Homo sapiens: one gene and its partners. The protein of the gene in region 1 purifies or fractionates together with the protein of each later gene. This does not show direct contact. Each region holds a gene or a part of one and is shown in the gene's direction. Other genes may lie near its edges. The genes, in order: DEFB135, TCTN2, CTBS, CACNA2D1, ATRNL1, NRP2 and SUSD1.

Region 1 (4,046 bases):
TCATTTGGCCTTGCGACAAGCCTTCCTGATAGGTGGGAATGATGGAGTACAACCTATTTTTTGTTGTTGTTGTTGTTTAAGACAGAGTCTCACTGTGTCACCCAGGCTGGAGTGCAGTGGTGCAATCATGGCTCACTGCAGCCTTGATCTCCTGGGTTCAGGTGATTCTCCCACCTCAGCCTCCTGAGTAGCTAGGAGTACAGGCGCTCACTATCATGCCTGGCTAATTTTTGCATTTTTTGTAGAGATGGGGTTTTGCCATGTTGCCCAGGCTGGTCTTGAGCTGCTGAGCTCAAGCAATCCACCTTCCTCAGCCTCCCAAAACGTTAGAATTATAGGCATGAGCAACTGCACCTGGCCAGGTGTACAACCTTCTTTCCAAGTGAGAAAACTGATGGTCAGTGAGGTAAAGTACGTGCTTTATTAAAAGCTTGTCAAGCTACTGCATGCAGAGTCCAGACCAGAAAGACTTTCTGATTCTGGGTTTTGTGTTCTTCATACAGTATCAGATAAAGTTGCTGAAAAACTTAAAACACTTCAAAAACTGTCAAACACTGTCGACTTTAGTCCCTCCAAGCAAGACTTTTGTCATAAATTCTTTGTATGCCCCCCCATTACCCGGCACACAGCATATGCTCAATGGGGAGCCATAGACTCAGTGTTTTTCCCTGGGTCATGTTGCGGGTGTTATGGGGACTTGCTTTTTCCATGCTGTTTTTGAGGAGCTCTTATTTTCCTAAAGACATTACAGCTATACCAGAACTGGGCAAGGCCATACTTTAGTACTTCTGTATATAGGAGTCAGGGAAGCCTGCTTATAAATCATGTTGCTACCATTTAGGATCTATGTGAGCTTGAGAAAGTCATTTCTTCTACCTGAGACTCTTTATTTTTGTTTTTAAAATGGAGAGAATCATGCCTACCTGGACTTCGTGTGTGTGTAAGGTTGAAAAAAAAAACAAACTCTTTGTCAACTATGTAAGGCAGCCTTATGGTTCTCTGCACACTATAGGCATTTTAGTGGATGTACAATGAAGATACACAGACACCTACACAGCACCCTACCAGGGCCTAGAATAGGGCTGCCTACACAGTGTTCATGCAGTTGCTAGCATGCATGTGGCACCCAGGAAGTGTGCTTTAATGAAGGGATGTCATGTTCAAACAGACATTTTGCTGATTGGATTGCTCAGTGGAGCAGGCAGATGTTCTTGTTCCAAAAGGTTCACTAGCCATGCAGCTCCCCGTCTCTTCAAAGCTGCGGAGAGAGTGACTCTCCGATGAGTCACAGCTGCTTCTTTGCTGATTGGTATGGCCACAAGGAGCGTCCTCTTGGCCCTCGTGGTCCTTAACTTACTCTTCTATGTTCCACCAGGTAAAATGGAGTCCCCACCTTGTAGAATTAGGAATAGTAAAGGGAAAAAAGGTGTGAGGTTCTACAAGAGTGAGAAAAAGGCAGGACTTGGACAAAGGAAGCTGCAACAGGGAGGAAAGTGAGCAGAGATGGACATGCTGGGCTGGTCCAGAGAATGGAGAAAAGATCCAAAGGACACAGAACAGGAGGTAGCTCTCTTCAGAAAAGAAACTGGTTATGGATTTTGGTTTGAGGAGCTGGTGAAGTTTGAGGGGAAGGCTGGACTGTTGGTACTGGCAGAAGTAGGGCAGAGCAAAAAGATGAGACTTTCAAAGAATAGCGAGGACTTGGGGATGAGAAGGAGACTGTTCTTTGAGGGCTCTTAGAACTTGCCTTCTACAGTCAGCCACCCATGTTATTTTTCACTCATTTAGAAGCCAAGGTAAATTTTATGCTGAGCAGAATCCACAGACACAGCTGGTTAAGATGTATTACACTAACTTATAGCATGATGAGGTCCTATGAAACATCAGTTTGAGAGGTCAGAATTTACATTCTGTGGACAGAAGCCAGCAACTTGGTGATAATGAGAAGAGTCTACTTCAGTCACTAAAGTGGAGGTTCTCAAAACTGTTTTGCTTGTGGTTTTCTGGGGTCAGCAGAGAGCCCCTACCCTTTGCCTCAAACCTTCATATATAAAGCGTATCACTCAAGGACCAAGTGTGAAGTGTTTAAAAGACAGATATGAGGCTGGGCGCGGTGGCTCACGCCTGCAATCTAAGCACTTTGGGAGGCTGAGTCGAGTGGATCACCTGAGGTCAGGAGTTCGAGATCAGTCTAGCCAACATGGTGAAAACCCGTCTCTACTAAAAATACAAAATTAGCCGGGCATGGTGGCGCATGCCTGTCCCAGCTACTCGGGAAGCTGAGAAAAGAGGATCACTTGAACCCAGGAGGCGGAGATTGCAGTGAGCTGAGATGGTGCCATTGCACTCCAGCCTGGGCAACAAGCGTGAAACTTCATCTCAAAAATAAAAATTAAAAAAAATAAATAAAACGAAGACAGATACGAATGAGGACCATGTTGAGATGATGGCTGATGTCCTGCATGGTGGGACCTCCGACACTTTGCAGTGTGTCTCTACTGGACTCCTTTGTCCCCAGAAAAGTGCCTGAGGTCTAGGGAGCACATGGTGGGCAAGTTTGCCTGCTAACGGCCCTTGACCATACCACATTGATTATTTTCACACCACAAAGGTTCAATCCATGGACTCATGGGGGCACCTGGGTGGAGAAACTGATAAGACTTAGCATGCAAGAGCAGGTGATACAGTAGGGGCAACTCAGGGCCACCCTTACCCTCTTAAACTGCCTTCCTATTACCCCTCCTCCACCCTCTGGTTTCCAGAGGCTCCCAGTTCTTAAGGTGTAGAAAAATTACTAGCAATAAATTTCCATATTTGTCTCAGGTATTTCAAACCATTTCACACTCATTCTCCCATGGGTGCAAAGTACCCATGGGAGAATGGGTACTTCTTAAGTACCTTGTGATTAAGCACTTGACAAAAAGTCATGCAGAATGTTTTTGGGGAATACAGGGGTAGAAGTGCAGGCTTCTAAAATTCCACTTCAGTGATCCTTCTTTCTTTATGCTGACACTTTGATAATCACAAACTGCCTCAGGTAGCTATTCCAGACCCTGCATGCCTCCTGGTATGGGACCTCTGCAGGCTCCTGGGATGACTTCGATGTCTGAATATTCTTTCTGAAGCCAATAGTCTCAAGCTGAATATGCTGGGTCCTGTTAACTCCACACAGTTGATCAGTAATTCATGTAACTAATTGTGGATTCATATAATGGCTTATAATAGGGCCCCTGGAAAACAAGGTAAGAGCAACTGAAAAGGGGCATCCAGCTATAAAATGTCTTGAGTATCTTTGATCGCGTCTAATTCATTATTAAAAAGTGAAAACTATGGTCTGAGGTCTAATTTTATCCATGACAACATGACACTTCAGGACACTAACTGTGCATTAACCTTTGTTTCTCTTGGCAGGTAGAAGTGGACCCAATGTCTACATACAAAAAATCTTTGCTTCATGTTGGCGACTGCAAGGTACTTGCCGGCCAAAATGTCTAAAAAACGAACAATATCGTATTTTGTGTGATACTATACATTTGTGCTGTGTAAACCCAAAATATTTACCTATACTGACTGGGAAATAGTTGTGAGTACCTGAAAGCTGTTGCTGATTTCCTCTGGGAACCCAGATCCCTCTCAGTTGCACCATTCGATTAAAACAATGGCTTTAGCCTATCAGTGTTCCTGTGTCTGCTGTATTTCTCTTTATTGTCTCTCTTACAGAAATACTCTAATTCCTTGTATTGAGTATTTTTCTTTTTATTAATTTGTCGCTTCTTAAAAGTCTCTTAAGAACTTTTTGAAGTATAACATACAATTAAAAAATGTACAAATCATGAGTAAACATCCTCATGAACTGCACAAATTTAACACACCTGTGTAACCAGCATCCTGCCCCCACAAAAGAATGTTACAACATCCCAGGCACTACCAGTCACTACTCCACACAAAATAATTCCTAGCCTGACTTTTAATAGGAAGGCGCTGACATCTATTTTTGAACTTTATATAAATGGAATTGTAGGTATTCCTTTGTGTCTGGCGTCTTC
Region 2 (3,500 bases), on another chromosome or scaffold:
TTTCTAAACTTATTTTTCTTTTGTTTAGTTTTCTTTTAAGAAATTTCATTTTGTACTATTTTATTTAACATTTATTTGATCTTTCTCTACTGTTTGCATCTTTATAAGCTACCTTGAATCCTTTTTGGGAGAAGGTGAAATTTGTTTATGTACATTGATTCTCTCTCTTTTTTTTTTGAGATGGAGTCTAAGTCTGTCACCAGGCTGGAGTGCAGTGTTGTGATCTCGGCTCACTGCAACCTCCACTTCCTGGGCTTAAGCGATTCTCCTGCCTCAGCCTCCCGAGTAGCTGGGACTACAGGCTCACGCTACCACGCCCAGCTAATTTTGTACTTTTAGTAGAGATGGGGTTTCACCATGTTGGCTGGGATGGTCTTGATCTCCTGACCTTGTGATCCGCCTGCCTCGGCCTCCCAAAGTGCTGGGATTACAGGCGTGAGCCACTGTGCTCGGCACGTGCATTGATTGTCATGACTGCATCTTAAGAAGAAAAAAGGAAGGGTGGCCAGACGCAGTGGCTCCCACACTGTAAGTGCTTTGGGAGGCCAAGGCGGGGGAATTTCTTGAGCCCAGGAGTTCGAGACCAACCTGGGCAACACAGCAGATACTGTCTCTATAAAAAATTTTAAAAAGCTGGGCATGATGGTGCCTGCCTGTAGCCCTAGCTACTAGGGAGGCTGAGGTGGGAGGATCGCTTGAGCGTAGGAGTTTGAGGCTGATGAAGTTTACATCATTTCCAGCTTTTTTTAAAATTTATTTTTATTTTCATTTTTTTTAGAGACACGGTCTCACTCTGTTACCCAGGCTGGAGCTAGAGTGCAGGGGCACGATCCTGGCTTGCTGCAGCCTCAACCTTCCTGGTTCAGGCGATCCTCCTGCCACAGCCTCCATAGTAGCTGGGGCTACTGGCGTGCACCACCACACCTGGCTAGTTTTTACATTTTTTGTAGAGACAGGGTCTCACTATGTTAGCCAGGCTGGTTTTGAACTCCTGGGCCCAGGTGATCCTCCCACCATGGCTTCCTGAAGTACTGGGATTACAGGCAGGAGCCACTGCACCTGGTCTGTTCCCAGCTTTTGATGCTACAGCAAAGATCGTTATGCCCGTGTACATGAATCTTTGGACATGAGAAAATGGTTTTGTGTTCATCTCCGTCTCACATGATGTTAGTGTTCTTAAACCAAAAGAGCTTTCAACTAGATGTGCCGATGTAGAGGGCTCTGCAGTGATGAGTGCTACTGCCATGTCCCCTGTCTCCGGTGGCGAACTCTGACATCTCTTGCCTTTATGGCCACGTGGCATGGAGGGAGAAGCGTTCCAGACTTTAGTAGCAAAAGTCTGTTACCTGGAGACTCCTTTACTGCCGCTTCCCTTATTACATCCCTAACTGTGGTCCTCCTGGTGCTTCTGGAAGTTTAGGATGATAAGACAAGTTTTGACAGCTCCTTTCAGCAGACTACTGTGCCCTCAGTGTACTTGCATGGAAAGGCCTCCATGATGAATGAAGTGAAAAAAGCAAGTGCAGATGGCTGCCTACAGTGTGCTATCTTTTGCATAAAGGAGGCAGAAATGAAAACATTTGCATAAAGAAATTCTGGAAGGATGTTGGAGAAGCTAATAATGTGCTACCAAGTTGGAGGATGATGTGGGAACAGGAAAGGGCTGACAGTGAGGAATTTTTTAATATGCTTTTGATTTTTTGGAACCATGCAAATGTGTTACCCACTTAAAAGTTTTAAATTTTTCTATGGCTTAAAATTCAAAACAAAGCCAAAAAAACCGTATTCAATGATGAAAAAAAAAATCCCCCCAAAACAACAGAAGGGATTCATGATAGCTGTACCATTCAAAGCACTGACTTTTTTCCTTTGAGAAATATGCTTGAGGCCAGGTGGTGGCTCATGCCTGTAATCCCAACACTTTTAGAGGCTGAGGTGAGTGGGCCACTTGAGCCTAGGAGTTCAAGACCAGCCTGGGCAACATGGCAAAACCCTGTCTCTACAAACAAATACTACAATTAGCTGTGCGTGGTAGTCGGTGCCTGTAGCCCCAGCTATGAGGGAGGCTGAGGTCGGGGGATCGCTTGAGCCCAGGAGGTGGAGGCTGCAGTGAGCCAGGATTGCTCCATGTACTCCAGCCTGGTCGACAGAGCAAGACCTTGTCTCTAAAAAAAGACCGGGCGCGGTGGCTCACGCCTGTAATCCCAGCACTTTGGGAGGCTGAGGTGGGCGGATCACGAGGTCAGGAGATCGAGACCATTCTGGCTAACACGGTGAAACCCCGTCTCTACTAAAAATACAAAAAATTAGCCGGGTATGGTGGCGGGTGCCTGGAGTCCCAGCTACTCGAGAGGCTGAGGCAGGAGAATGGCGTGAACTCGGGAGGTGGAGCTTGCAGTGAGCCAAGGTCACACCACTGCACTCCAGCCTGGGTGACAGAGCGAGACTCCATCTAAAAAAAAAAAAAAAAAAAAAAAAAGGAAAATATGCTTCAGTATATTTAGGTAATATTTAATATTTTAGAATACCAAACTTAGAAAATTGAACATCTTTGTATATGAGTGATTGAGTTGTCAGCTCTGACCCCATGAAGGCATGAAAAATTTTTTACTCAGCCAGCCAGCGATTAAAACTAGAAAAAGAATGGAAGCACAGACAGGAGGTATGTGTCATACCCAGTAACAATGAAGCCAGCGAACAATGTAGAAAACATAAATCAACACACAAACATCTATTTGTATAACACATAGTAAAACCCTATTCTGAAGTGTCTCGTGGCTGGGGGTGGTGGCTCATGTACTATGCCTGTAATTCCAGCACTTTGGGAGGCCAAGATGGGAGGATCACTCGAGCCCAGGAGTTTGAGACCAGCATGGACAACATAGTGAGACCCTGTCTTTACAGAAAATATGAACGTTACCTGAGCATGATGGTGCACACCTGTGGTCCCAGCTACTTGAGAGGCTGAGGTGGGAGGATCACTTGAGCCCTGGGAGGTTGAGGCTGCAGTGAGCTGTGATTGTGCCATTTCACACTTCAGCCTGGGCAGCAGAGTGAGACCCTGTCTCAAAAAAAAATCAATAAAGTGCCTTGCTTGTGTCACATGGGTTTGATAACACTGAGGGTCAGACCCTTACCCGTGTAACGTGGTCTGCGATGTGGACCTTCTCCTTGTTCCGGATACCATTGATGTATCATTGACCTTCTGCTATGTTACAGGATAGAACAGATCGTTAGTTGTTCTTTAGATACTTCAGCTATTGTGTCATTACAGTTAACTGTTATGTGGGGTTTAAACAAATAGTTCCTGCATGGTTTTCTAACGTGTACCAAATGCAAAAGTAAAATTCAGCAGAATGAAACTTTTATCTGATAAATGATTGGAGAGAAATCCAAAGCATTACTGTCACTGGATTCTGAGTTAGGAGGCTGAAATGTCGTGTAACATATTCCTCTTCAAAGAGGAAAACAAGTTCGGAAACCTGTAATATCCTGAAGAG
Region 3 (3,500 bases), on another chromosome or scaffold:
CTCTTGGGTGACCAAGTGCATTGTCAATGAGCAGTAATATTTTGAAAGAAATCTCTTTTTTTTCTTAGTACATCTCAGCAGTGGGCTTAAGATATTCAGTAAACAGATGTGCTGTGAGCCAGGCTTTGTTATTCCATTTATAGATCACAGGCAGAGTCAATTTAGCATAATTCTTAAGTGCCATAGGATTTTTGGAATGGTAAATGAACACTGGCTTCAACTTAAAGTTACCACCCTCATTAGTCCCTAACAAGAGAATCAGCCTGTACTTTGAGCTTTAAAGCCAGGTATTGACTTCTCCTGTCTAGCTAGCAAAGTCTTAAATGGCATCATCTTCTTCCAATATAAGATTTATTTGAAGAAAGGGGTCTCTGCCTTTTAAAATGTGTTTGATCATAATTTTACCCGACATGGGAGGTTTCAGAATGAAAACCCAAAGATACAGGAAAAACTGTCCATTTTTGTGCTTAGGTTCAACGAAGTATGGACAGCTATGTAGAACTGTGATCAGAATAAAGGGCATGAGCTAATGCAAACAGACTGAGTGGGAAAACTCAGCAAGGACTGTCTGTTCAGATTTTTCTTGGCCTCTCTGTGAAGGATTTCTTCTCATGGGTATGGGGTAGGACCTCTCTGGAATGAGGGTCTTAATTTCTTTATGGCCAGCTATTACACAGAAAGGTGGTGGTGGGAAAGGTTAGAGTAACATTTTTAGACTTTATGGCTGGTTTTGGGGAAAAGAGGCTCTAGTTTCTATGACCCATTTTAGGGAAGAGGGATTCTAGTTTCTCTTTCTTTCTTTCTTTCCTTTCTTTCTTTCTTTCTTTCTTTCTTTCTTTCTTTTTTTTTTTTTTTTTGAGACAGAGTCTTGCTCTGTCGCCCAGGCTGTAGTGCAGTGGCGCCCTCTGGGTTCACTGCACCCTCTGCCTCCTGGGTTCAAGCAATTCTACTCCTCAGCTTCCCCCATAGGTGGGATTACAGGTGCCCGCCACTATGCCGGGCTAATTTTTATATTTTTAGTAGAGATGGGGTTTCACTATGTAGGCCAGTCTGGTCTCAAACTCCTGACCTCAAGTGATCCGCCTACCTTGGCCTCCCAAAGGCCTGGGATTACACGCATGGGCCACTGCACCTGGCCAACACATTGTTTAAGCTCTTAGAATTCAGGAAACATTTTGGTGAGCCTTGAAGGCCATTTAATGTCACTTCAGAAAACAATCTAATTATAACTATTTTCTTCCTCTTTTTTATTCATTGCAAAATTCCCATTGTAAGGTTATTAGTCTAATTTCAATATCGTTATTAAGTCTTTTTTTTCTGAGATGGAGTATCGCTCCGTCACCCAGGCTGGAGTGCAGTGGCACAATCTCAGTTCACTGCAACCTCTGCCTCCTAGGTGTAAGTGAGTCTCGTGCCTTAGCCTCCCAAATATCTGGGGTTATAGGGATGCCCTACCATGCCCGGCTAATTTTTTGTATTTTTAGTAGAGATGTGGTTTCACCATGTTGGCCAGGCTGGTTTGAAACTCCTGACTTCAAGTGATCCTCCCATCTCGGCCTTCCAAAGTGTTGGCATTACAGGCGTGAGCTACCGCGCCTAGCCAAATATTGTTATTAAGTCTTATATGGGCAGTTCATGGTGCCCACAAACAATTACAATAGTAGCATCAAAGACCACTGATTGCAGATCATCATAACAGATATAATAATAATAATGAAAAAGTTTGGAATATTTTAAGAATTGCCAAAATGTGACACAGACACAAAATGAGCACTTGCTGTTGGAAAAATGGCACCAGTAGACTTGTTCAATAGAGTTGCCATAAACCTTCAATTTGCAAAAAATTTAATGTCTGCAAAGCACAATAAAGCAAAGTACAATAAAATGAGGTATGCCTGTAATTTAAAAATATGTAACATAGAATCTTAGGACAGTATATACTACCATATACTGTTTCTTTGTAATCCTGACCTTAGTAATCTGTGGCTTGTTTTTTCCTTAATGAATGTGAAAATGCAGGAACACATTCTTCTTTTTTTTTAGACGAGGTTTTGCTCTGTCACCCAGGATGGAGTGCAGTGGCACAATCATGGCTCACTGCAGCCTTGACCTCTTGGGCTCAAGCAATCCTCCTGCCTCAGCCTACCAAGTAGCTAGGACCATAGGCGTGTGCCATCATGCCAGGCTGATTTTTTTACTTTTTGTAGAGACGGGGTCTTTCTATATTGCCCAGGCTGGTCTTGAACTCCTGGCCTCAAGTGATTCTCCCACCTTGGCCTCCCAAAATGCTGGGATTACAGGTGTGAGCCACTGCACTTGGCCTCTTTTTTTTTTTTAATTAAAAAAAAGTGGCCGGGCGCGGTGGCTCACGCCTGTAATCCCAGCACTTTGGGAGGCTGAGGCGGGCGGATCACGAGGTCAGGAGATCGAGACCATCCCGGCTAAAACGGTGAAACCCCGTCTCTACTAAAAATACAAAAAAAATTAGCCGGGCGTAGTGGCGGGCGCCTGTAGTCCCAGCTACTTGGGAGGCTGAGGCAGGAGAATGGCGTGAACCCGGGAGGCGGAGCTTGCAGTGAGCCGAGATCCCGCCACTGCACTCCAGCCTGGGCGACAGAGCGAGACTCCGTCTCAAAAAAAAAAAAAAGTTTAATGGCAGGCAAAAATTATCTGTATTTATGGTGTAGAAGATGATGTTTTGATATATCTATACATTGTGAAATGGCTAAATCAAGTTATTTAACATATGTATTACCTCACATACCATTTTTTAAATGGTAAGAACACTTAAAATCCATTCTCTTAGGAATTTTCAACATAATACATTGTTATTAACTATAGTTACCACGGGATACAGTAGATTTCTTGTATTTATTGTTCCTAATTGAAAATTTGTGTCTTGAAATATCTATTCTTCCCACCCCCAGCCTCTGGTAACCACCTTTTTACTCTGTTTCTATGAAGAAACACATTCTTTAGGTCTCAGAATTCAGGAAACATTTTGGTGCGCATTGAAGGCCATTTAATGCCACTTTAGAAAAAAATCTAGTTATAACTGTTTCCTTCCTCTTTTTTTTTTTTTTGAGATGGAGTCTCACTATGTCGCCCACGCTGGTGTGCAGTGGCGCGATCTTGGCTCACTGCAAGCTCCGCCTCCCGGGTTCACGCCATTCTCCTGCCTTAGCCTCCCAAGTAGCTGGGACTACAGGTGCCCGCCACCAAGCCTGGCTAATTTTTTTGTATTTTTTTAATAGAGACGGGGTTTCACTGTGTTAGCCAGGATGGTCTCGATCTCCTGACCTCATGATCTGCCCATCTCGGCCTCCCAAAGGGCTGGGATTATAGGTGTGAGCCACCGCGCCCAGCCTCCTTCTTTTTTTTTTTTTCTTTTTTTTTTTTTTTTTTTTGAGATGGAGTTTTGTTCTTTTCGCCCAGGCTGGAGTGCAGTGGCACGATCTCGGCTGACTGCGCCCTCCGCCTCCCAGGTTCAAGCAATTCTC
Region 4 (4,048 bases), on another chromosome or scaffold:
TCATGTCAAAAGTATTCTCATACACTACTAGAGGGAGCTTAAGAATTTAAGGTGTGCAAGAATATATTTCTATCTTTGGCCCACCAGGGCCCTCTTGTAGGAGGCCTGTGTTGGGCGGGAGAGGCCTAGTCGCAGACCCTGTCTTTTCAAGGAGAAAGCCCGCCACTGCTTCCTCTGAGTCTGGAGATAAAACCAGTCCGGCATTGCTACTCCCTAGCTCTCTCCCCCTCCCTTAATTCCTCCTCTACATTTCAGGCGCATTTCTCAGAGTGCCACCTGTTCCTGCTGCTTACCCTTTTCATGCCTTCGCATTGACAAAAGTGAGCTCACCCTGCGGTAACCTTGTCAGGCAGGGCAGGCCAGTGGCCAGAGCAGGGCGTTAGGACCCTTTTGGAGGTAGTCCCAACTGGGATGCTGCAAAGCGCTTCTCTTACTACTGTCCTCCCTAGATGCAGAATTCGTCCCTCCACCCCTCTGTCCAATGGAACCACAGGGCTGGGAAGATTTTACAGCGTCAGTACTTCTCTGTCCGTCCACAGCCCGGTCCCTGAGGCTCTGTCCTCGCCAGGTGAGCCGAGCAGTACCTGGGCGTGGGACCGCTGGCACAAAGGGCACCCAGCCCCGGCAGAGGCTCTAACCTATGGCACACGCGGGCATATAGTGCCACCTGGTAGAGAGTCAACAGTGGTGCTTTAAAATGCAATACAAACCCCTCCTACATTTGTTGTCAAATCACTTCACGATTCCCAGGCAGGCACTGGATTCTGCGCCTGGGAGTAGGGCTGGGGGGGAACGCTGCCTGCATGTGCAAAAATAACCCCCGAAGACGCGAGCCAAGTCCTGGGTTGGAGCCTCTGCAGCCTGTGGATGCCCGCTGGGCGGCTGGCCGTCCCCCGGGAGCCCCGCGGGGCTGGTCCGCTCCGCCTGCGCACGCCGGGCGGCGGGAGCGAGCCGGCGCCGACTTTGGGAGTTCCTGGCTGCCTTGTATGGAGGGCTGCTCCCGGCCCGTCTCCGCCCGACTGCTCTGACGCCCAGCCCTCCCGCTGCCCACCCCCAGCCGCCTCCCTCTGACTTGCCTAAGAAGCCAGACGGAGCCTCTCGCTTCCACAAGTCTCTCTGCCTGCCATTCCCCGATTCCTGCAGCCACCCCCACCCTCCAGCGCCGTCACCCCTCCTCCGCCCCCGCCCCCGCCTCCGCCTTCGCCTCGGCAATCGGGGGAATAAATCAGGGAGGAAACCGAGAGGGAGAGCGAGAGCGCGCGAGCGCCGGCGGGCTCGCCGAGGTCTGTTTCCAAAGTCGCCCTTGATGGCGGCGGAGGCAAGGCGGCCGCGGCGCGGAGCAGCCGACGCACGCTAGTGGGTCCGCCCGCCACCGCCCCTTCCTCGGCGTCCGCTCCCGCCCTTGCCGTCCCCCGCGCGGCTCCGCGCCTCGGGCCCCGGGCGCAGCCAGCCCTCCAGACGCCCGCGGTCCCGGCGGCGTGTGCTGCTCTTCCTCCGCCCGCGGTTTCCAGCGCCGCTCCTTCCCCCGCTTGGGCAGGGAGGGGGCATTGATCTTCGATCGCGAAGATGGCTGCTGGCTGCCTGCTGGCCTTGACTCTGACACTTTTCCAATCTTTGCTCATCGGCCCCTCGTCGGAGGAGCCGTTCCCTTCGGCCGTCACGTAAGTCGGCGGGCCGGGCAGGGAGCGCCGGCCGAGGGGCGCCGCGGGAGTTGGGGGTGGGGGTCGGTTCCCGAGTCGCGGGGCTTTTCCGCCCGTGGGGGTGGGGAGCGAGCGGCCGGGGAGCCAGGCTCGGATGCGGAGACGCCGGGCAGGCGGTGCGCGCCGCTCGCCGCTGGAATGCGTCCCGAACCGGCGTCTCGGGCGCCTCCACGGGGCCGGGCACTGGGGGCCGACTGTCCCGGGAAGCGCCCGCCGACGACTCGCGGCGTCTCAGCCCGTCTCTAACGGGATTCTCTAGACTTCAGAGTGCAGCCGTACTGGGGAAAAAAGTTTCCAGCCAGCTCACCCGCTCTGATTCAACCCAGTTCAATAAAAAGTTATGTTTTGGTTGGGTAATTTACAAACAGGTAATTTCAGGCTTGCCGAGGTAGCGTGGACTTCCCCCGCACTTGGCCTCGGAGATGCTCTTTAATTGCTGTAGTGCCCAAACTCGTTTTATCCCACGTTACTGGATGCACTTGACAGCCTTCCGATTAGACGCGTGCTGGCTCCCCGCGGCCGAGCGTGCTGTCCACGCAGGGGGCTCGCAGGTACTGGGACCACGCGATCCAACCTCCCCAACCCATTATTTGAAACATCTAAGTGTCGGCAGACACGCGGTCCCTGTTCTTCAAATGAATAGAGCCTATTCTTTGAAGGAGGGACTATTTCCAGTCTCCTACAAATTTTCTTTTATTTTTACCATTTCTAAAATAACTTTTAAAAACCTCGCTGCTGTTCTGGAAATAGAGGGCTTATAGGTAGCTATAGTCACACCACAGGAAGGGAATGAAAAATAATAATTCTCTCCTTTCTTAGCAAAATAGAATCAAACTCAATGGCACATATAAATATATACATATTTTTTAATGCACCGAATAGCCTATCCGGCATTCTGGGAAAGCATTTATTTTGGTTCTTGGAGCTTCTTTAAAGCTTCTAAAGGTAGGTAATCTTAAGTGGATGAGTCACTTTAATGCATTTTACATAACAAAAACAAAGCCCAAGGTAGCTTTCCCGGTATTTATGCTGCTGGGAATTACTTGCTGTCCTTTGTTGGCTGAGTGCTGAATACAGGAGTTTTTGGTGGAAAGTAACAGTGAATCTTTAGCGGTTGAAATCCTGCGGCTATTATTTAAGATTCAGTTTTAAGTATTTATTACCTTAGGTGTCAGTGCAAGAATCTGGAGGATGCACATTCTATCCCGGAGAAGGGGAGTGTCTAATTTTTGTTGTCATTGAGTTACAGTAATGTTCCTCTTTAGATAATCTTCCATAAAACTGATTGCAGATCCTTTTTGTTATGAAGCAAAAGGGTAAATGCCATCTGGAGATCTTCGTTTAATTGGCAGGATGTTCCAGTCAGATATTTTTAAACATAAAAAGAGTAAGAATCACCCTAAGGATGCTTCAGAATTATTTACTCTTATTAAGGCATCACACTTCCATTTAATTTTTTAAGTCTGTTTGTTGCTTGGCCTGTAAAGTGAGAACTCAAATGAGTCGCTTGCATTCTGTGTCAAATAAATAAGTGGCTCTTTAAAAAACAATCACTTCCTAAATGTGTTCCGATTACTCATTTTTACAGTGTTGTTTTTAACTGACAATTTATCAATATTTTTATCATGGGAGGGGATACATCATCATACCATTGGGGAAAACTACAACAAAATACAACCTTTTATTCCTCAACATACTGTGGTAAAATATTAATGTAAAAATCCTTATTGTTAAGAAGAACATCTGCAATAATGCTTTCCTAAAATTATAAGTAAATCAATTTTCATGGTCAGAAATTTACTAGACACAAGAAAGAGTATATATAGTGGGTTAAAATGGGAAGTAGGACATCACAATTTCTTTTCTTTGGAAGGATCTGAAATTTTTTTTAACGATGAAAATTCAAGATATTTTCAAATTATATAAGACATTGATTATTTAATGAATGAAATACTTAATAAAAGGTTTTGTGGAGCGAAGTCAATCTCCTGTAGGTAATCTTAACAATATTTTTGGAAGCCTTCTGCATCTTCAGTTTTTCATTTGAAAAGTTAGTAACACTGTCTTCTGAGGAAAGAACTGATGGTTGACATTTGTACTTCATGTTAGATTTCTGAATAAACTTTATGAAATTAAAAAATGCAATATTTTTCATAAAGATGTGCCATTTGCTTTTCTTTCGAGAAAAGAATTCATATGCACTGTTTAATCAGGACAAATCTCAAATCTTTGGGGGAAAATTTCAAATTTATAAAAACTGAGTGCAAAGACTGTAGTGTCAATAAAGGCAAATTATTATGCTTCTGTATGTAAATTTCTCTCGGAATCATTAGTAAATATTTTTGGGT
Region 5 (3,068 bases), on another chromosome or scaffold:
ATTTCTAGGTTGCATCTAACCATGACTATGTCATTATTTTGATAATTAGGCATTTATGAATTATAGTATATATTCCTCATGTTGGCATGATAATTTTGCTATTTTCCATGCATTAAAAATAAGACAAATTCTTAGAGTAATTTTAGTAATTTTATCTATAATCTGTGGGGTTTTTTTGGAGGGGGAGGCCACTGGTTGTTTCTACTTCCCTGTGATATTTTCTCTCTCATTAAAGGAATGAGCTAAGTTTGTAAATATCTCCTAAAAACAATCAAGTAATTTTATTAGCTTCTTTTGGACCCTCTAAATATTGACTTCTCTCATGAAAAAATAAATTGATGAAACTAATGATTACAAAGATATAATCATTTTTTAAAAAGTGATTGCCCAATGTATTTCTCTAACAATTGTCACAAGAGAAAGCATAACAATAAAAATACAAAAACATACAGATTTAGATGTAAAATCTATATAAGCTATATTTTTAGGGAGGCTAAGCAGATAGTATTACTGTGGAAGAATTATCAAGTTTTATTCACCTCAAATCCCACTGGGTTCTTAAAACTTGAAAATTCAAATTGTAGAGAATTATGAGACACAATGTGATGTTTAGTTAAAGTCATGCTATACCTTTCTGGGCCACATATTGCTAACTCTGTGGCTAATTATGCAATTAATTCTCAACGTATCAAAGCTTTTCACTGGCAGTAAATTCTTTGCCCTCAGGTGAAGTGGATTGAAAAGACATCAAGGATCAAGGATAATCACTTTGAATCTGTTGGTTTTTCCCCCTACATTCCAGACACTTTAAATTTGGATGCTTTCATTTTTTTTAAATCAAACCACACAAATATGCAGATACTTTCCCAGAATTTCGCAGTTAAATGGCTGATCCTCTTGAAAACTAACCTTAATGGAATTCTAAACATTTCAGTTTAGAATGACTTTGAAAAATTCCTTAGATTTTTAGGATGTTTTATTCTGCCAAGTATGAAAAAAAAATGGTTAAATACAATGGAGTTTTAAAAATTAACCTGGGGATTCTATTTGAACTAGAAAATTCCTATTGGAAAAGAATTTGCACATACTTACAGATTCAGCTAATAAATTTTAAGAGGATTAGGATTCTCATAATTCTTTAAATGAAAATTTGTTTTAGTGATACACAGAGATGCCGTATACTATAGTGTTATGTTCAGTAGGAAAACTTCAAATAGTTCGTATTTAAAAAGGTAATTGATCCTTGCTGTACTTCCCAACATCTCATCTTCTTTTAGCTGCAGTAAGATAGAGGTGACTGTATGGCTACAGTTCATGGTATAAGGTCATTTAGGGTGCACACTGGCACACAGGCTGGAAAACGGGCACTGGACCCAGCTTTCAGGTGTGTGGTGCTGGGTAAGTTTCACCTTTGAAGCCTCAGCCTTCCATCTGTAAAGGGCGGTAATGGTGCCCACCTTTCGAGGCATTGCGAGGCTAGATGGTAACACACAGAAAGCTCCCACAGTGGGACCTTGATGCAGCGTAGCTGGTATTAACAACCGTGGGGACACCAGGCCACTCTTTTTCTACCAGTTGTTTTATGAATCCACCTATTAATTTTCATCCATCTTTTGGTCGTAGGTAAAGGTCAATCAGGTTTTTCAAAAAGACTCCCTGAATAACTTAAGTTCCTGTATTTCTAAGATATAGGGATTTCTACAAAACGACTTTGACATTTAGTCAATAAAGACTTAAACTCTTCTTAAATCTATAGTTTTAGGAGAGTTTTTCTTAAAATTACTGACTGATGACATTGAGACAAGAGCATCAATGATCACCTTTCACGTACAAACTAGGCAAGACAGGGTCAGTGCTTACATTTTGTGGTTATACATGATACATCTTTTCTCAGTGAACATAAAACTATGATTTGAAAGGTGTCTTATATTTAAAAAAGATTGTAAAATGAAAACTGACCAAATGAACTAATTCTACCCACCTATGGTCTTTTTAAATGTCGAGTTTCAAAACCCATTTGCCGTATACTAGAGTGAGCTTGGAAACTTACCTGATTACAGGAATTGCTTGGGTTCAGGCAGATTCCCACTTTCACCTCTAGAGATTTAGATTCAGAAACACTGGGGTAGGCCCTGGAGAGCAGTACTCTTAACAAGCTCCTCAGTGCTTCTTACCATTAGGCAAATTAGGGAAACACTGCATTGGGTCAAAGTGCTGCCTTTAATCGACCATTAGAGGGAGTTCTCTAAATAACAAAGTTATTACTCTAATTCAAAATGCTTTAAAGAATTTTCCAAGGAATACAAGCCATCTGGTTGGTGTTAGTTATAGCAGTGATTTCATTAGAGTGTACATTTAACATTTTAGTTTTATCAAAATTTTTTGAAATTAAGAATTAGAACCAGAGCTCCTATCAGTATATATGTACACAGGTGTGCATGCCAGTGTTCAAAAGATTGTGTAAAAGTTCAAGCCCGTTTTAGAAAGCCAACATTTTATGTTATAATATGCTGTTAATCAGGACTTTATTAAATAAAAACATTGGCTCTTCCAACCCCCACTGCCAAATGCAGTTTTGTTTTGTTTTTGTTTGTGTTTTATCCTTTCGTGGTCACACAGGAAAAAGCACTCTGAGAACTTGAAAAAGCCCCTCTCCATCGAAGAGGTGATTATATAGTTTGTTATTGAATTTTGACATTCAAAATACATTTCCCCCTCTTTTTCTCTTCACCAGATTTGCATTGACCTTTCCTGTACGTTCTCTGTGAGGGGCTTGCTGAGCACTTGGAATGTTCCTGAGAATTAAAGGCAAAACTCACAAGGCCCAGCAGCTAAGAATCTAGCTATAATGAGGGTCTACGCCACAGGACATGTGTTATAGAAATTGCTCTTACTTAGAATAAAAGTCAGCTATCTGAGACCAGGGCAGCTCTGGCATAGCTGACTCTTCTGGGAAAAGCCTGCAGGTTCTCTGGTAAGCTCTGGGCTTGGTCCTTATGTGGCCATCTGGGGCCCAGCCTTCTTTCAGTGGCACTGCTCTGCTAGGCCTCTGTAAGGTCTCACCGAGA
Region 6 (3,500 bases), on another chromosome or scaffold:
GAGAAGACCAGAGTGGGAGTTGGGACATTATAGGAGGCAATGCAGGGGGTGCAGATGGGAGATGATGATGGCTGGATTAGCCCCAGAAATTTATGGACAGACCAATCCCCTTTATCTTGTGGGCTCAGCCCAGGGCAGGCAAGTTGCCTCTTTGACCTGGAAGTGTCTTCAGTGTACATCCATCCACGTGCCTTTCCCCTAATCATTCCAGCTCTGACAGGGAGTGCTCCAAGGTCTGACCCTGTTTGAGGTTTCTAGTTAAAACACCTTGTGTTTGTACAGTCTCTGCATCTCCACATGCCTTTCTTGTTTATCATCTTGCCTACACTTTCTAACAACCCTGTGAGGTAAGGTGGGCCAGGGACTGATAAGGAAACCAAGACTCAAAGAGGCTAAATAGCTTGCCCAAAGTCATTCAACTAGGAGGTGACAGAGCCAGGATCTGAACCCACGTTTTCTCAATTCAAATTCTCTGCTCTTACCACATTTACACAAAGACCCATTTTCTTCTAATGGGATCAGTTTATGCTAATCCTGTCTAGGGGACTATTTTCTGTCCCTTCCCTGTTGCTGTTCCAGGATAATCAGCAAAGATTTAGGTAGAGGTCATTCTCTGGAAGATTGAAAGGAGAGAACCAGTGATTTTGAAGAAGGGGAACAACGTGGAGGATCTTTTTTATCCATAGCTCAGTTTGCAAGTATGAAATGCACATTGACTATAGACCCTGCCTTGCCTGACATCATTTATTCATGCATTCTCCACTCAATCATTTGTTCCACACATCTGATGTGCCAGGCACACACTGGGAATGGGACATAGAGACAGGAACAAAATAGATGGGGTCTCTGACATCGTAGAACTTTCAGGCTACTGAGCAAGATAGATAATAAACAAATGCAAGTACTGGATAAACTAGAATGTGCACATGAAGGAAAAGAACAGGGTGCTCTGAGGGAAACCAATTTAGTGAGGATTGAAAATTTGGGAACAGCTTTTCTGTGGATATGACACTTGAGCTTGGGGGTAAGAAAATGTTAGTCTGGGGGTGACTGAAGGGAAAAGCATTTGGGGTAATGGGAACAGCATGTGGGAAGGATCCAAGGCAGTAAAGAGCAGTTATTTGGGAAGTAAAGACCTGATACTGATGCCAGGAAGGTTTCCTTCTACTTGGCAAAACAATTACTAGGAAATAATTCAATGTTTAGCTCAGTTCCCCTGTTCTCAGTGTCCCTGATAGGGTCAGTGGGGACTAGTGTCATCGACAGGGATGTGCAGACACACATTCTGAGAGTCCTTGGTTAGAGCTGTAAGCACAAATAGTTAATGGCCATTGGATACTTAAATATGCCAGGCACCATCCTGTGAGCTCTTAGTAACTAACAGAATCCTTGCAACAGCCCTCAAGAGGTAGGCACCTCTATTAGCTCCCCTTTAGATCTAAGGAAACTGAGGCAAAGAGCAATTAAATAATTTGCCCAAGGCCCTCTGACTAGTAAGTGGCAGAGTGAACATGAACACAGGCAGTCTAGCTCTGAGTCCAGGCTCTTAACCACAGTGCTGTACACATTCACCATGCAAAGAAATTAGTGCTGACTTAGTATTTGACAGTTGGGCTCTTTTGCAGCTCCCTTCTTATAGCGGGTGGTCCCTGGTTAGCAGGTGTCAGCCATGACCTCTTGTATCTTCCTCTCCTCTCTGCAGATGCTCCCTGCTCCAACATGCTGGGGATGCTCTCAGGCCTCATTGCAGACTCCCAGATCTCCGCCTCTTCCACCCAGGAATACCTCTGGAGCCCCAGTGCAGCCCGCCTGGTTAGCAGCCGCTCGGGCTGGTTCCCTCGAATCCCTCAGGCCCAGCCCGGTGAGGAGTGGCTTCAGGTAGATCTGGGAACACCCAAGACAGTGAAAGGTGTCATCATCCAGGGAGCCCGCGGAGGAGACAGTATCACTGCTGTGGAAGCCAGAGCATTTGTGCGCAAGTTCAAAGTCTCCTACAGCCTAAACGGCAAGGACTGGGAATACATTCAGGACCCCAGGACCCAGCAGCCAAAGGTAGGCTGTTCTTGGAGGCCTCTGTAACGTTACCCTCAACAGGGAGGCTAAGTGTGGTACAGGGAGTTGAGACTGATGATGTCCCATCTAAACAGTCGTCATCCAACTCCTGAAATCCAATAAAACAAATATCGTTTGAGAGATTACTTTGTGCCAGGCACTGTGCTAAATACCTTATTTCTGACTCTTTTGTTTGTTTGTTTGTTTGTTTTTGAGATGGAGTCTCTGTCACCCAGGCTGGAGTGCAGTGGCCTGTTCTCGGCTCACTGCAACCTCCGCCTCCAGGGTTCAAGCGATTCTCCAGCCTCAGCCTCCTGAGTGGCTGGGATTACAGGTGCCCGCCACCACACCTAGCTAATTTTTGTATTTCTGGTAGAGATGGGGTTTCACCGTATTGGTCAGGCTGGTCTCGAACTCCTGACCTCAAGTGATCCACTTGCCTTGGCCTCTCAAAGTGCTGGGATTATAGGCATGAACCACCGCGCCCGGCCTGGACTCTTTTTTAATCGTTACAACATCTGTGCAAAGTAGATCTTTTTGTCACTCCCATTTTAGAGATGATAAACTGACACTTGATATCATGCCCAGGGTCACACAGTTCACCTGTGATAGAGCCGATTCAGAAACCGGAAGTCTGACTCCAAAGTCCAGATGCCTAACCCCTACTGAACACTGCCTTTTTATAAAGTTCAACACTCTTTATACACTCTTTCAGATAAAGTTTCCTTGAAATTGGCCAGACATCTAAAGGGGATGTGGTTTTTGGAGGCCAAGCTATAGAAACTAGAGGATGACTTCCAAAAATAACGATGTTTTTCTGAATGTCGCTGCATTCCTTTGTATTCTCCTAGTTTTGACTGCTTAGATCTTTCCGGCCTCTCAGACTGAGGCAAGGGAGAAGCAAGAGAAACTCACCCCGAGCCAGAAGCTCAGGCCAGTACAGCTTACTCCCCTGCCACCAGAGTGAAGGTCAGCCTTCAACACAGACACAAGGAGCCCCAGAAGGGGAGGAGACGTCATACCTCTGTCCCTCCCCAGATCAGTCTCCTGGCAGGCCAGGCTCTCTGATTCTTATCTCTAGTTACCCCTTGTTTTTCTCAAAAGAACAGGTCCCTAAAAAAGGAGGGAGTTTGCATGTCTCGGGGCCACCTTTGCTAAGCAAATGTCTCCATTCTGAATACAGAGGCAAGAGTTGGGTTGGAGGTTTTGCGATGCTGAGGTAAACTCCCAGCTCTCAACTCCAGAGGCTTAGAAAGGCTCAGGGCTTGGTAACTGGAACCTTGCATCGATGGAGCAGAAGTTGGACCGCAGGCTTCCCCATGGAGAGCTGAGCCTGGTTTTTCTTGGGAAAGAAGTTGATCTTTGCCATTGTGGGAGACAGCCCTATCCGAGACAGTGCTTCTGGTTCAGAATTGTGGACGCAGGGCATCCTGAAAACTGGAGCGGTC
Region 7 (4,070 bases), on another chromosome or scaffold:
CTGTCTGTCTGTCTATCTATCTATCTATCTATCTATCTATCTATCTATCTATCTATCTATCTATCTGTCTATGGAGTCTCACTCTGTCGCCCAGTCCGGAGTGCAGTGGTGCGAGCTCGGCTCACTTCAACCTCCGCCTCCTGGGTTCAAGCAATTCTCTCGCCTCAGCTTTCCGAGTAGCTGGGATTACAGGTGCCTGCCACCGTGCCCACCTAATTTTTTTTTTTTCAGTAGAGACGGGGTTTCACCAAGTTGGCCAGGCTGGTATCGAGCTCCTGACCTCAAGTGATCCACCCGCCTCGACCTCCCAAAGTGTTGGGATTACAGGCGTGAGCCACCGCACCGGGCCAGGACATGTCTTCTATTGCCTGATTCCTGCAGCAACTCCGGGCTGGACTCTTTGCCTTCCACATCCCAACCCAACCCCAATCCCAATTCCACAGAACAGACAGAGATGTGTCAGTGATGAAGTCATTCACTGCTTGAAACTGTGACAGCTTCCCGGCGACCTCCATCACTTGGGTTAGGAGGGCTAACTTCCCTCTGCAGCTCAACGCCCCTCTCCAACCCTCTGCTCTCACTCTAGGTCCCCATTCCCCATTTCTACAACAAACTCCCGCTTAGATTCCTCCCCAACGTCCTTCTCATCCTTGGGTCTTGGTTTACTCCTTCCCTTGGGATGAGTACGGCTGTGATGGAGGTAGGGGCTGGCATCAGCGCGTCCCAAGCCGGGTGTCCTCAGAGCAGCGGGGACTGATGCCAGCCCCTCCCTCCATCACAGCCCTACTCTCTCTCACTCCCGGTGACCAGGTGTCACCTGGTCAAGTGTGTCGCCCCTGGGTGGCCTGGGTCTGCGTCTTCCGACCTCTCATCTGGGCCTTGCGCTGTGGTCACCTCATCCAGCTCCCTTTCACGTCCTGGAAGATTTCCGCCCCTTGCTCCCCTCACCCCTCTCCCCGGGGGTGCCTCCCTGAGCCCTCGAGTGGCTTGAATCCTCCGCAACATTTCCTCCCCAGCACTCTCCGGGGCTCTGCGTCCAGCTGTGTCATTATCCGATGAGTGTCTGTCCCCCTTTGCGAATGTGAGCGGCGAGAGGGCAGCAAGTGCGGAGCCAGAGACGGACGCGGAACGGGCGTGTCCTAAGCCCAGGCCCCGACAAGAGGAAGGACCCGCGCTCTGCGGCCTCCCGGGGACCCCGCAGCGCCCCCCGCTTCCCTCGGCGGCGCCGGAAGCCGCCGGCTGGTCCCCTCCCCGCGGCGCCTGTAGCCTTATCTCTGCACCCTGAGGGCCCCGGGAGGAGGCGCGGGCGCGCCGGGAGGGACCGGCGGCGGCATGGGCCGGGGGCCCTGGGATGCGGGCCCGTCTCGCCGCCTGCTGCCGCTGTTGCTGCTGCTCGGCCTGGCCCGCGGCGCCGCGGGAGCGCCGGGCCCCGACGGTGAGTGCGGGCTGGGACGGGCACGGGCGGCCGGCGGGGCCCCCGGCTGGGCCTCGAGGACTCTGGGCGCACGGACGCTTCCCCGCCCCTGGGCCGGGCCGGCGCGGTGCCGAGGCGTGGGGCGCAGGTGGGGCCCGCGCCGGCCGTTGGAGATCGGCAAGGAGGAGCTCAGAGAAGCGGGGGGCTCCCCGCCGGGCTTCCCTGCCCCCGCCCGACCCCGCGACGCCGGGGGACGCCGGTTTTAAGGCGGCCTGGCCGGGCCCCCAGGGACCTCCACTGCCCAGGAGGCGGGGTGGGGGCTGGGCGCGAGCGCGGACCCGGGCAGGGCGGCGCCCGGGGAAGGGCGGGGAGGCCAGGGCGTTCTGCGGCGCTGTCACGCTTCCGGCTCTGCGGTGGCTTTTGCATGACACATTTTTGACCCGAAGCAATTTTCTTACCACTTTTAATTTTTTCACGTTGTTAGAGAGCCGGATGCTAAATATGGTGAGAAAGACGCGTAAGGAAGAGTACAGGAGTGAAGCCATTAATTCACTCATTCATTCAACAGATGGCCCTTGAACAGCTTCCCTGTGCGCGATGAGGGCGGGCAGTGCGGGCCCTCGTGGAGCTCATTGTCTGGAGGATTTAGACCAGCAAATGTTCTATTTCCAAGCAATCGAGGGAGTTGTTTTTCCTCCTCTGCAAAATGCAGTGTTGAGCTGAGTAGGAATTACACAGAGGATTCAGACACGCAGGGGAGGTGACATTCATCCACATAACTGTAATACAAGGCAGAATGGCATGGGTGCCATGAGAAGGTGTGGGTGGTGAGGGCAGGGAAAGGGGAATCGGTGGTGACCCTTGAGCTGGGCCATCAATGATTGGTCATATTTGGATATGGGAAAATGTGAAAAAGGTATCCCAGCTCATAGCAGAAGGCACTGTCACCTCTCCACAAATGAGTGTAGAATGAATGAATTCCTTCAGAATTCAGGCCCGGGGGAGAAGGGAAGGAAGCACACGGAGGCACCAGAGGCAGAGGGCAGAGTGCCTTGATTGGCAGACCTAGGCCTTTGGACTTAGCTGTGCCTGGAAGCCACTGGAAGCCGTCTCAGGGAGTGACAAGAAAAGTGGGTCTAGCCAGTTCTAGGCGCTTCGGGAGCCACAGGTTACAGTGCAGACATGGCCAAATCCAAGCACCACACCACACACAACCAGTCCCGAAAATGGCACAGAAACGGCATCATGAAACCCGGATCACAAAGATACGAATCTTTTAAAGGGGTGGACCCCAAGTTCCTGACAAACATGCGGTTTGCCAAGAAGCACAATAAGAGGGGCCTAAAGAAGATGCAGGGCGACAGTGCCAAGGCCATGAGTGCACGTGCTGAGGCCTTGCCCTCATAAACCCCAAGGAGGTTAAGCCCAAGATTCCAAAGGGTGTCAGCTCTTGCCTACGTTGCCCACCTCAAGCTTGGGAAACGTGCTCGTGCCCGCATTGCCAAGGGGCTCAGGCTGTGCCAGCCAAAGACCAAGGTCAAGGATCAAACCAAGGCTCAGGCTGCAGCTCCAGCTTCAGTTCCAGCTCAGACTCCCGAAGGAGCTCAGGCCCCTACAAAGCCTTCAGAGTAGAGATCTGTGTCTGCCAACGTGAGGACAGAAGGATTGTCCCCCTTGGACTGCCATCTGCATGGGGCTGATGTCCTCCTTTGCTATTTGTATAAGTAAACTTGAGGCGGGGGAAAGAGGGTCTAAGGAACCCCCATCTTCCTTACTAAAACCAAACGCTGATCCTGAAGTGGAAGGAAATTTCCATGTGATGACATACAAGGAGACTTGTGGTTGAGAATCCTGCCTGCCGCCCCCACCCCCATTCTCTTTGGCTTGGGACTTTTACCATGCCTGATGGGTATTTCAATGGCTTGATCTTCTGGAGTGGCCATTTTTGTAATATTAGGTGCCCTGGTTAAGATTCCTTCCTTGGCTCTATCTCCGAGAACAGTGCGCATAGGACTTGCAGATGCTTGGCGTCTATTTCAGGATCTTCCTGTGATATCTCTAAGGTAGGAAACTGTCCAGTATGATCCCATTGAATTGTTAGACTAAGATGGCTGAACACAGCTAGTAGCTACGTAAGGTCATCTGTAACTAAAGGTTTTGGGGGTGAATTTGGGGAAACAGAAGTCAAGGCTTCCTGGTTGAGCCCCCTCTCCTTATCTAGACATTCTCCCTTCATGTTCAACCTTGGAGAACCTGGTTTTATGAAGGGCAGGTTTCCTGACAGTCGACAATGTAGGGAAAGACTGGAGGCTTGGACAAGCCCATTGAGGAAGTTGTTGCAATAGCTGGCCTGGAAGTTCTGAGGACTGGGCCCACAGTAATGACAGCAGAAACGGACTGAATGTAGACAGTAAGGTGGAAATGGACTGGAAGGAAGGATTTAATAACAGATATGAAGGTGCAAGGGAACAGAAGGGGAAAGATGACACTAAGGCTTGGGGGCTGGGTGACTTGGTATATGTTTCTACGGAAGGAGAAAGATTTGGAAAGAAAGATGATTAGTTGTTTTGGACATCCTGAATTTGAGGTGCTGTTATGGATTTGGAGAGATGAAATCAATAGACTTGATGGTTGCTTGAAACCTTGAAGTTGACAA

The links.
Region 2: the proteins of DEFB135 (region 1) and TCTN2 purify together in Homo sapiens (affinity purification with mass spectrometry; one large-scale study listed by BioGRID and IntAct). This does not show direct contact.
Region 3: the proteins of DEFB135 (region 1) and CTBS purify together in Homo sapiens (affinity purification with mass spectrometry; one large-scale study listed by BioGRID and IntAct). This does not show direct contact.
Region 4: the proteins of DEFB135 (region 1) and CACNA2D1 purify together in Homo sapiens (affinity purification with mass spectrometry; one large-scale study listed by BioGRID and IntAct). This does not show direct contact.
Region 5: the proteins of DEFB135 (region 1) and ATRNL1 purify together in Homo sapiens (affinity purification with mass spectrometry; one large-scale study listed by BioGRID and IntAct). This does not show direct contact.
Region 6: the proteins of DEFB135 (region 1) and NRP2 purify together in Homo sapiens (affinity purification with mass spectrometry; one large-scale study listed by BioGRID and IntAct). This does not show direct contact.
Region 7: the proteins of DEFB135 (region 1) and SUSD1 purify together in Homo sapiens (affinity purification with mass spectrometry; one large-scale study listed by BioGRID and IntAct). This does not show direct contact.

Annotation. Positions count from the first base shown.
Region 1 is NC_000008.11:11,981,010-11,985,055, forward strand, and holds DEFB135 (beta-defensin 135 precursor), read left to right. Parts: upstream 1-1,246; 5' UTR 1,247-1,311; coding exon 1,312-1,375; intron 1,376-3,411; coding exon 3,412-3,581; downstream 3,582-4,046. UniProt on the Homo sapiens protein: Has antibacterial activity.
Region 2 is NC_000012.12:123,674,113-123,677,612, forward strand, and holds part of TCTN2 (tectonic-2 isoform 1 precursor), read left to right. Parts: intron 1-3,500.
Region 3 is NC_000001.11:84,557,441-84,560,940, reverse strand, and holds part of CTBS (di-N-acetylchitobiase precursor), read left to right. Parts: intron 1-3,500. UniProt on the Homo sapiens protein: Involved in the degradation of asparagine-linked glycoproteins. Hydrolyze of N-acetyl-beta-D-glucosamine (1-4)N-acetylglucosamine chitobiose core from the reducing end of the bond, it requires prior cleavage by glycosylasparaginase.
Region 4 is NC_000007.14:82,440,978-82,445,025, reverse strand, and holds the start of CACNA2D1 (voltage-dependent calcium channel subunit alpha-2/delta-1 isoform 1 preproprotein), read left to right. Parts: upstream 1-1,248; 5' UTR 1,249-1,566; coding exon 1,567-1,661; intron 1,662-4,048. UniProt on the Homo sapiens protein: The alpha-2/delta subunit of voltage-dependent calcium channels regulates calcium current density and activation/inactivation kinetics of the calcium channel. Plays an important role in excitation-contraction coupling.
Region 5 is NC_000010.11:115,946,432-115,949,499, forward strand, and holds the end of ATRNL1 (attractin-like protein 1 isoform 1 precursor), read left to right. Parts: 3' UTR 1-2,568; downstream 2,569-3,068. UniProt on the Homo sapiens protein: May play a role in melanocortin signaling pathways that regulate energy homeostasis.
Region 6 is NC_000002.12:205,741,501-205,745,000, forward strand, and holds part of NRP2 (neuropilin-2 isoform 2 precursor), read left to right. Parts: intron 1-1,702; coding exon 1,703-2,052; coding exon of another isoform or gene 2,053-2,079; exon of another isoform or gene 2,080-2,198; intron 2,199-3,500.
Region 7 is NC_000009.12:112,172,498-112,176,567, reverse strand, and holds the start of SUSD1 (sushi domain-containing protein 1 isoform 2 precursor), read left to right. Parts: upstream 1-1,270; 5' UTR 1,271-1,332; coding exon 1,333-1,435; intron 1,436-2,554; exon of another isoform or gene 2,555-3,154; intron 3,155-4,070.